Linked DNA regions of Homo sapiens. The gene in region 1 interacts genetically with each later gene. Each region holds a gene or a part of one and is shown in the gene's direction. Other genes may lie near its edges.

What was found.
Region 2: changes in RNGTT (region 1) and TCOF1 together harm fitness more than expected from each alone (negative genetic interaction), as found in Homo sapiens cells (one large-scale study listed by BioGRID).

What each region holds. Positions count from the first base shown.
Region 1 is NC_000006.12:88,848,568-88,852,390, reverse strand, and holds part of RNGTT (mRNA-capping enzyme), read left to right. Parts: intron 1-2,564; coding exon 2,565-2,636; intron 2,637-3,823.
Region 2 is NC_000005.10:150,377,901-150,381,723, forward strand, and holds part of TCOF1 (treacle protein), read left to right. Parts: intron 1-1,004; coding exon 1,005-1,142; intron 1,143-1,328; coding exon 1,329-1,508; intron 1,509-1,631; coding exon 1,632-1,832; intron 1,833-3,823.

The sequences.
Region 1 (3,823 bases):
TTTTTTTAGCATTATAATTAATAAAATATAAGAAAGGAAAAGACTTAAGTAATAGCATTTGTCAAAGTTTAGTATAGTTTATAATTGAACTAATGTTTGTTGAGTGCCTATTATGAGTTGCTATACCAAGAGTACGGGTATTGCTTAGAGGGTTGAGGAGAAGGCCTCACCCTTGAAACATTTTGCTTAATTGAGCAGGGTGGAGAATGAATGGTAATGATGGAAGAGACCTTTGAATAAAACAATAACCCAAAGAGAGGTATTTAAGTCCTGAGGTAGTTTAGAGGAGAAATAAATCACATCTAGTTAGTTAGGAACTAAATATGTTTTGTGTAGGAGTTGGCATTAGAAACAGAAAGATTTCTATAGAAAGATTTTTGATGGACGTGGGCTGAGGGCATTCTAGGTAGGAAATAATGCTTAAAAATTAGATATTTAACCATCTACAGATTTAACTTAGCAATACTATTTATTTCACCTCAAACTTGGATAACTGAGAGCGGCATAATAGATTCTTGTGAAGTTTTAAAAATAGCAGTATGATTCATGATGTCAATTTACTTGGGCTAGAATTATAGTTGCCATATCTGTTTTTTTTTGTTAATTAAAACAGTCCTGTAGTTTCCTGTTTCTTCTACATTTTCATGTGCAAATTGTTTTTGTAAAATTCCAAATCCAAGAATAATTCAAACCACCTAATTGTCTGACTGTCAGATGTGAGCATTGAAGCTTTTGTTTTGCTTTGCTTAACTATGTTCTTTGACCTATAAAATGTGGAAAATAGGAATTTAGAAATACTGCATTAATTCACTTGAAACACATCAGTGAAATTTAATCAACTTAATATTGAGACTAAGATAAGAATATAGCAGTTAATCATTAAAGTTAATGGCAAGAATTTTGGAAAAATTCCATGTCTTTTTCAACTATTAATTTTTTATAAAACACTACATGCTTATTGTTGAAATTTTAGAAAGTCTGTAAACTTAGAAAAAATAAACAATCAAGAGATGACATTTTATATTTTGATGTTAAAAGGAAATATCCTTTTAGTAACTTTGTTGTGCTAATAATTATATAACATGTATAACCAATATGTATATAGCTGACATTTAATATATGTTATGTATCTGGGGTTCTGTTATTCCTCTTCAATCTGAAGAACTGCTTTTAGGATTTTTTTTTTTTTTAAATTTAGTTCTTTTTTTAAAAAAAATTGAGATACAATTTACATACTATGAAATTCACTATTTTAAGATGTTCAATCTAGTGGTTTTTAGTCTTTTCCACAAGGTCATAAAATCAAGACCACTATCTAATTCCAGAACATTTCATCACCTATATGGACTGTGATGATTAGAACCAAGGGAGCCTTATATGAAAGATTTCAAGGAATGAGTTACAGAGATGAGCCTTGAAGGCCCACAGGTTTTGAAAACCCTTCAGTGGTTCCCTGTTATTCATAGCACAAAAGCCAAACTGTTCAATATAATATTCTTTATATCTGAAGCGTGCCTGTGTCTTCAGTCTCATCTTTGATTGTGATTGCTAATCACAAATACTCAGCTTTGGACAATTTCATGCCTTTGTTATACCATTTGGCCTATCCACTATCCTGCTGGAAAATATACTCTGCATCTTTCAGGATGCAGCTAATGGTCATGTACCTTATTACCAAACTTTCTCTTATTCTTCAAGTAGAAATAACTACACTCCTTGTACTTAGGCTTAGGTAATGCTTTCTTACAACAACAAAATATATTTTTCCTAAATCAGTGTGTTTTTTTTGTAATTTTAGATGGTTGTACATGGAATTTCTGTTATAAAATTAGATAGCAAGAAAACCTATCTGGTTTCCTAGTAAGAATATGAGGAAAGAAAAATAATTTTAGGTCAAAAACATATTAATAATTAAAATTTTAAGTAATACTGCATTTTATACCTGTAGTCATCCTTTAATGTCCTTATCTTGTTCTGTCAGACTGCATTTTTTTTGACTTTTTAATGGCTATGGTAGATTTGCAGTGATCTGTTCATACTCCCTTGCCCTGTTCCCTTTGAACAAAGCCTAGTAAAGTGGTATGAAACCAAGAAAGGCCACATGGCTCACATGGGAATTAAATCTATAATGAGGATGCCATTTATTGTCATAGATTTTATGATTAAAGTAATTGGTGTATAACAAAATTTAAAGCATTAATGATTAAACAAAAATATTTTTAAAAAAGATCCTGACGTTTAGAATTTAAAATTTGTAGTCTTCCTACCCTTAATTGTCACTTAGTAATTCAAGCATAAAGCAAAATGTAGCATGGAAATTCAAATATGAAAAATATGATGAGATATTGTCAGGTGATTCTATTTCAGTATAGAATAAATGCATGATGGGGATGGGGGGCTAACAGTTTATTGATATGATCTGGGTACAAGTGTGTTCACTTTGAAATTTCATCAAGTTGTATATTTATGGTTTATGTGCTTACTGTGTGTATGCCATATTTCAATTAAATTAAAAAAAATTGTTATTAAAGTATGAAGAAACTTACCTTCTTTTCTCTTTCAAGGAGATGATTATTGACAGAGTAAATGGACAGGCTGTTCCTAGATATTTGATATATGACATAATTAAATTCAATGTAAGTACCTATAATTTATAAAATACAAGTTATTACTGAAATAATGAATGTATTTTTGACAATAGTCTTTGGTGCTGCCTTAGAGATAGTAGGAAAGAAAATTTGTGACTCAGGTTACTCACTGGGAATCTTTTTTTTAATCCTTTTATATCTCCTTTTCTTTCTCTTATTGTTAATTTTCACACATTTCTTTGTTTTAGGTTTCTTTAACTTGCAAGTGAGTAAAGAATAATGGCATAACTCTGATAAAATAAGACAGCATTTCATAAAATGAACATTTCTGATTTTAATTATCCTGTACTTTTTTCTTTTAAATCTCATGAGTTTATTTCTGTCACCAAAACAGCAACAAAACAAAAGAGAAACTGATTATGAGCTGTTGAATGGGTAATAAATTGCAGTATTAATTCAGGATTGCATTAATCCAGGTTATTAAAAGACATTTTTTTCTGGACATTTTTAATGCACACATCTAATTTTTTGATTGAAATTCTGTATTTAAAACAAAGAACTTCAAATTTAAGAGCCTCAGGGCCAGAAAACATCAAGTTTTATTTTGTTCTGTTTGACTGTATTCCTCATAAGTACTGCTTTCCAGAACTGGCTTAATCTCATCACAGATCTTGGAATAACATTCATTGGCCTATAACTAGACATAAGGGGTGGCGGGGTGGCTTTGTTTCTTTGTGAGTAGGGAAGTTCTGTCTCCTTTACTTCTTGACACTGAGCTCTGCTTTAATACATGTTCAGTCTGGGCTTACTCTCACTTCTTAGCTGAGTACTGTCTCTTAGATAGCAGTTTTCTAATACTTTTTAAAAATATGAAAAATTTCACCATATAGAAGAGTCTGAAAAATAATGTAAGGAATACTCATGTACTGACCAGCTAGATTTGTTAAAACTTCATACTTTTGGTCCACTTTCTTTTTAATAAGACATGATTCATTACGAATCCAATAGAAGTTTCTTAGTTACACCTCTCTCCTAATCTCAAATCTCTTGCCCAGAATCAGCCTCTACCCTGAATTTGGTGTGTTTATTGTTCCCATGAATGTTTCAGATACTTTTACTACCTATGTGTGTATCCATGAAATATATATGATATTCTTTTGCAAGGTTTCTGGTGTTATATAAATGTTATTGTACTATACCTTTGCTGACCTTTGCTCAACAAGATAATGTTGAGA
Region 2 (3,823 bases), on another chromosome or scaffold:
TTGTTGATTTCTAATTTAGTCACATTGTGGTTGGAGAACATATTTTGTATGATTTAAATCCTTTTTTGTGTATTGAGACTTGTTAGGTCAAGTCAGTCTTGTGTCTTGTTTCTTGTGGAAAACATGGCTCCCCTCTGGAGGATTTACGTGCTCTACTGATGAGCACCTCGGCCTGAGTCATACTTGGTCCACACTGTAGGGAATCTTCTTGAAGTCCTGATTCTTCACCTCATTTGACCTCATGTGTTTGAGGAATGCTGGGGGATGGGGTTGTTTTCTGACACTGACCAGATGCCATCCCTGAGTGAGGCAGGGGCCTTGAGATGCTGCCAGAGTCCTCATTCTGTTTCACATTAGGCTTGCTGTCACTCCTGTTAAGGATCTCACTCTGGGAATTTCCCTTTTTTTTTGTTCTCCTTCTATTTGTTGGAATCCCTGACAGGCCTTTTGGGGGTTCTCTGGATATCGGTTAAGGCTAGATTAAGCTGAAGAAAACCTTAAACAACAAGTATCTTGTTCTGCCGTGGCTGCTTGAGCTCCAGCTCTGACCTCAGCATTCCATCTAGCCTGGAGGAGGAAGAGACATGTTTCTGACCTTTTATGGCACTCAACTTACATCCTATGAGCCAGAATTTAATGACATTGCCACCTAGCTGAAAGGGAGCCTGGAAAACATCTGTTTTAGGTAGTCTTGTGCTTAGCTAATGCTAAGGAAGGCACGCACAATGAGTTTGAGTGTTTATTATGTTCCAGACATCATGTTAAACTCTGAATCTCCTATTTAGTCTTCATCATAACCCGTAGGTGGGCCTTATTATTATCTCCATTTGATAGAGGACTGAACTGAGGCCCAGTGAGATCAAGTGATGAGCTCAGGTTCACACGCCTATTGCATGGAGGAGCCAGAATCCAGACTCGGGCTCCAGCTCCAGAGTCTGTATTCTTGGCTAGCTGCTTTACTCAATCTCACCTTCTCCCTCCTTAATTCCCTTTTCTCCACTCAGGTGAAAACCTCAGTAAAGAAAACCCAGGCCAAAGCCAACCCAGCTGCCGCCAGAGCACCTTCAGCAAAAGGGACAATTTCAGCCCCTGGAAAAGTTGTCACTGCAGCTGCTCAAGCCAAGCAGAGGTCTCCATCCAAGGCAAGTGGGGCCAGAAGCCACAGGAGGTGTGGAGGGTTGGGGTAGAGAGGAGGACCAGTCACTGAGCCCAGCCAGGAGAAGGTGCGTGCATGGGCAGGCCACCCACCCAGAGTTGTGCCATAGTGGGGAGTGGGACCTGAAAGGAATCACTTTTGCCTCCAATACTATTATCCCCCTGCAATTCAGGTGAAGCCACCAGTGAGAAACCCCCAGAACAGTACCGTCTTGGCGAGGGGCCCAGCATCTGTGCCATCTGTGGGGAAGGCCGTGGCTACAGCAGCTCAGGCCCAGACAGGGCCAGAGGAGGACTCAGGGAGCAGTGAGGAGGAGTCAGACAGTGAGGAGGAGGCGGAGACGCTGGCTCAGGTGAGGGGGAGGGAATGGAGATCATCCCCTACATGGGATGTAACACCTTTGCCACATCCAGCTCCTGTCTTCTCACACGTCCACCCTCCAGGCTCTCTCCTCTCATCCTGTTTCTCCCTCCAGGTGAAGCCTTCAGGGAAGACCCACCAGATCAGAGCTGCCTTGGCTCCTGCCAAGGAGTCCCCCAGGAAAGGGGCTGCCCCAACACCTCCTGGGAAGACAGGGCCTTCGGCTGCCCAGGCAGGGAAGCAGGATGACTCAGGGAGCAGCAGCGAGGAATCAGACAGTGATGGGGAGGCACCGGCAGCTGTGACCTCTGCCCAGGTAAGACTTGCCAGGCCTCTGAGCCACCAACACTCACTCCTCAGAACGGGGGTATAGGGCTGGGCGTGGTGGCTCACACCTGTAATCCTAGCACTTTGGGAGGCCGAGGCAGATGTATCACTTGAGGTCAGGGGTTCAAGACCAGCCTGGCCAACATGGTGAAACCCCGTCTCTACTAAAAATATAAAAATTAGCTGGGCATGGTGGCGGGTGCCTGTAATCCCAGCTACTCGGGAGGCTGAGGCAGGAGAATCCCTAGAACCTGGGAGGCGGAGGCTGCAGCAAGCCAAGATCATGCCACTGCACTCCAGCCTGGGTGATGAGAGTGAGACTGTCTCAAAAAAAAAAAAAAAGAAAAAAAAGAAAAGTGAAAAACCAGGGTTTAGGGCCAGGTAAGGAAAAGAAAGGAAGGCCAGGTTAAGGCTTAAGGCTCCAGTTCCACCATGCCCTCCTCCGTCTGCTGTCATCCACATCTCCTTAGGTAAAACCTGCTACTAAAACCCCCCAAACGAAGACTTCCGTAGCTAAAAGTGTCCTGGGTCTATATCTAGGTCGAGGTCTCCACCAGCTCTATAAGCTAGGCCAGTATTTCCCACCAAGGCATATGAGACCAAGAATCTACATGTTAGTTATTGTGCATACGTTAACGTTATACAAAATGACTCTCCCTGTCAGAGTCCCAGGGAAGCTTGGAGTGTGGCACAGGTCCCCCTGAGGTCCTGGAGAGATGGAGGAAGTCTCATCCTGCACCTTGGCCCGGAGCCTCACATAGGCAGGCGCATCTTCTCAGGCAGGGCTTGTCTAGCTTAGTGCAAAGCCTGGACCCTGGAGAGTGGGGAGAAAGAAAATCTGAACAATTCCCTCTGTCTGCTTGCAGAAGATAGCAGGGCTTGCTACATCCTACAGAAGTGTAGGATGACAAACTCCAGCACTGCCAAGGCACAGGTGTGTGATGGAAATGACTGATGCAGGCCTGGCAGGAATGATAGATGTCGGCCGGGTGCGGTGGCTCAAGCCTGTAATCCCAGCACTTTGGGAGGCCAAGGCGGGCGGATCATGAGGTCAGGAGTTCGAGACCAGCCTGGCCAACATGGTGAAACCCTGTCTCTACTAAAAAAATACAAAAATTAGCCAGGCGTGATGGCAGGCGTCTGTAGTCCCAGCTACTCGGGAGGCTGAGGCAGGAGAATCGCTTGAACCCGGGAAGCAGAGGTTGCAGTGAGCCAAGATCATGCCATTGCTTTGCACTCCAGTCTGGGCAACAGAGTGAGACTCTGTCACAAAAATAAAAAAAAGAGATGATAAATGTCAGGAGAGATGGTAGATAGTGGTAGCAAGTAGGGCAGACCGGAGAGCCCTTGCCCCATCCAGAGGGGCAGTTCTTATCAGCTTCAGCCAGTCATGACTGTGGAGATGGACCTTCTGTGTGGCCAGGTCTTCCATTTCTTAAGGGAAGCTGGAAGTCCCTGTGCCAGGCCAAGCTCCATAACCTCTTAGATTTGTTTTCTTCATGAGTAAAACAAGCACTGAGATGAATGCTCCCTAGCCCTAACCTCTGCCTTTGATACACCAAACCAACAATTACTGGGGGTGAAAGACATTGGCCCCACCCTCAAGGAGCTCACAGTCTGTGGGGCAAGACAGGTGACCGGATTATCGCAGACTATGCTAGTGGTGCTGACAGCTGAAAGAGCAGGTCTCTGAGAGGCCAGAAAAGGAGGAGATGATTGAGCTGAACCTGAAGGATGACCAGGCACAAAAGTGGAGAAGGCCCCTCAGTGTGTGCAGAGGGGCTGGGCATGAAGGCACATGGTCACTGAAGGCAGCTGTCCTGCAGGCCGTAGGCCCTCCCAGGTGCTTGTTACTGGTAGATTTATGGAGGACCTAAATGCCAGACTAAGACATAGGCCCCGGCCATATTTTGGGCTGTGTAGTTTTTTTGTTTTTAAGTTTTCAATGAGTTCTTAGTCAGAATGGCCTAATCTGTAGGA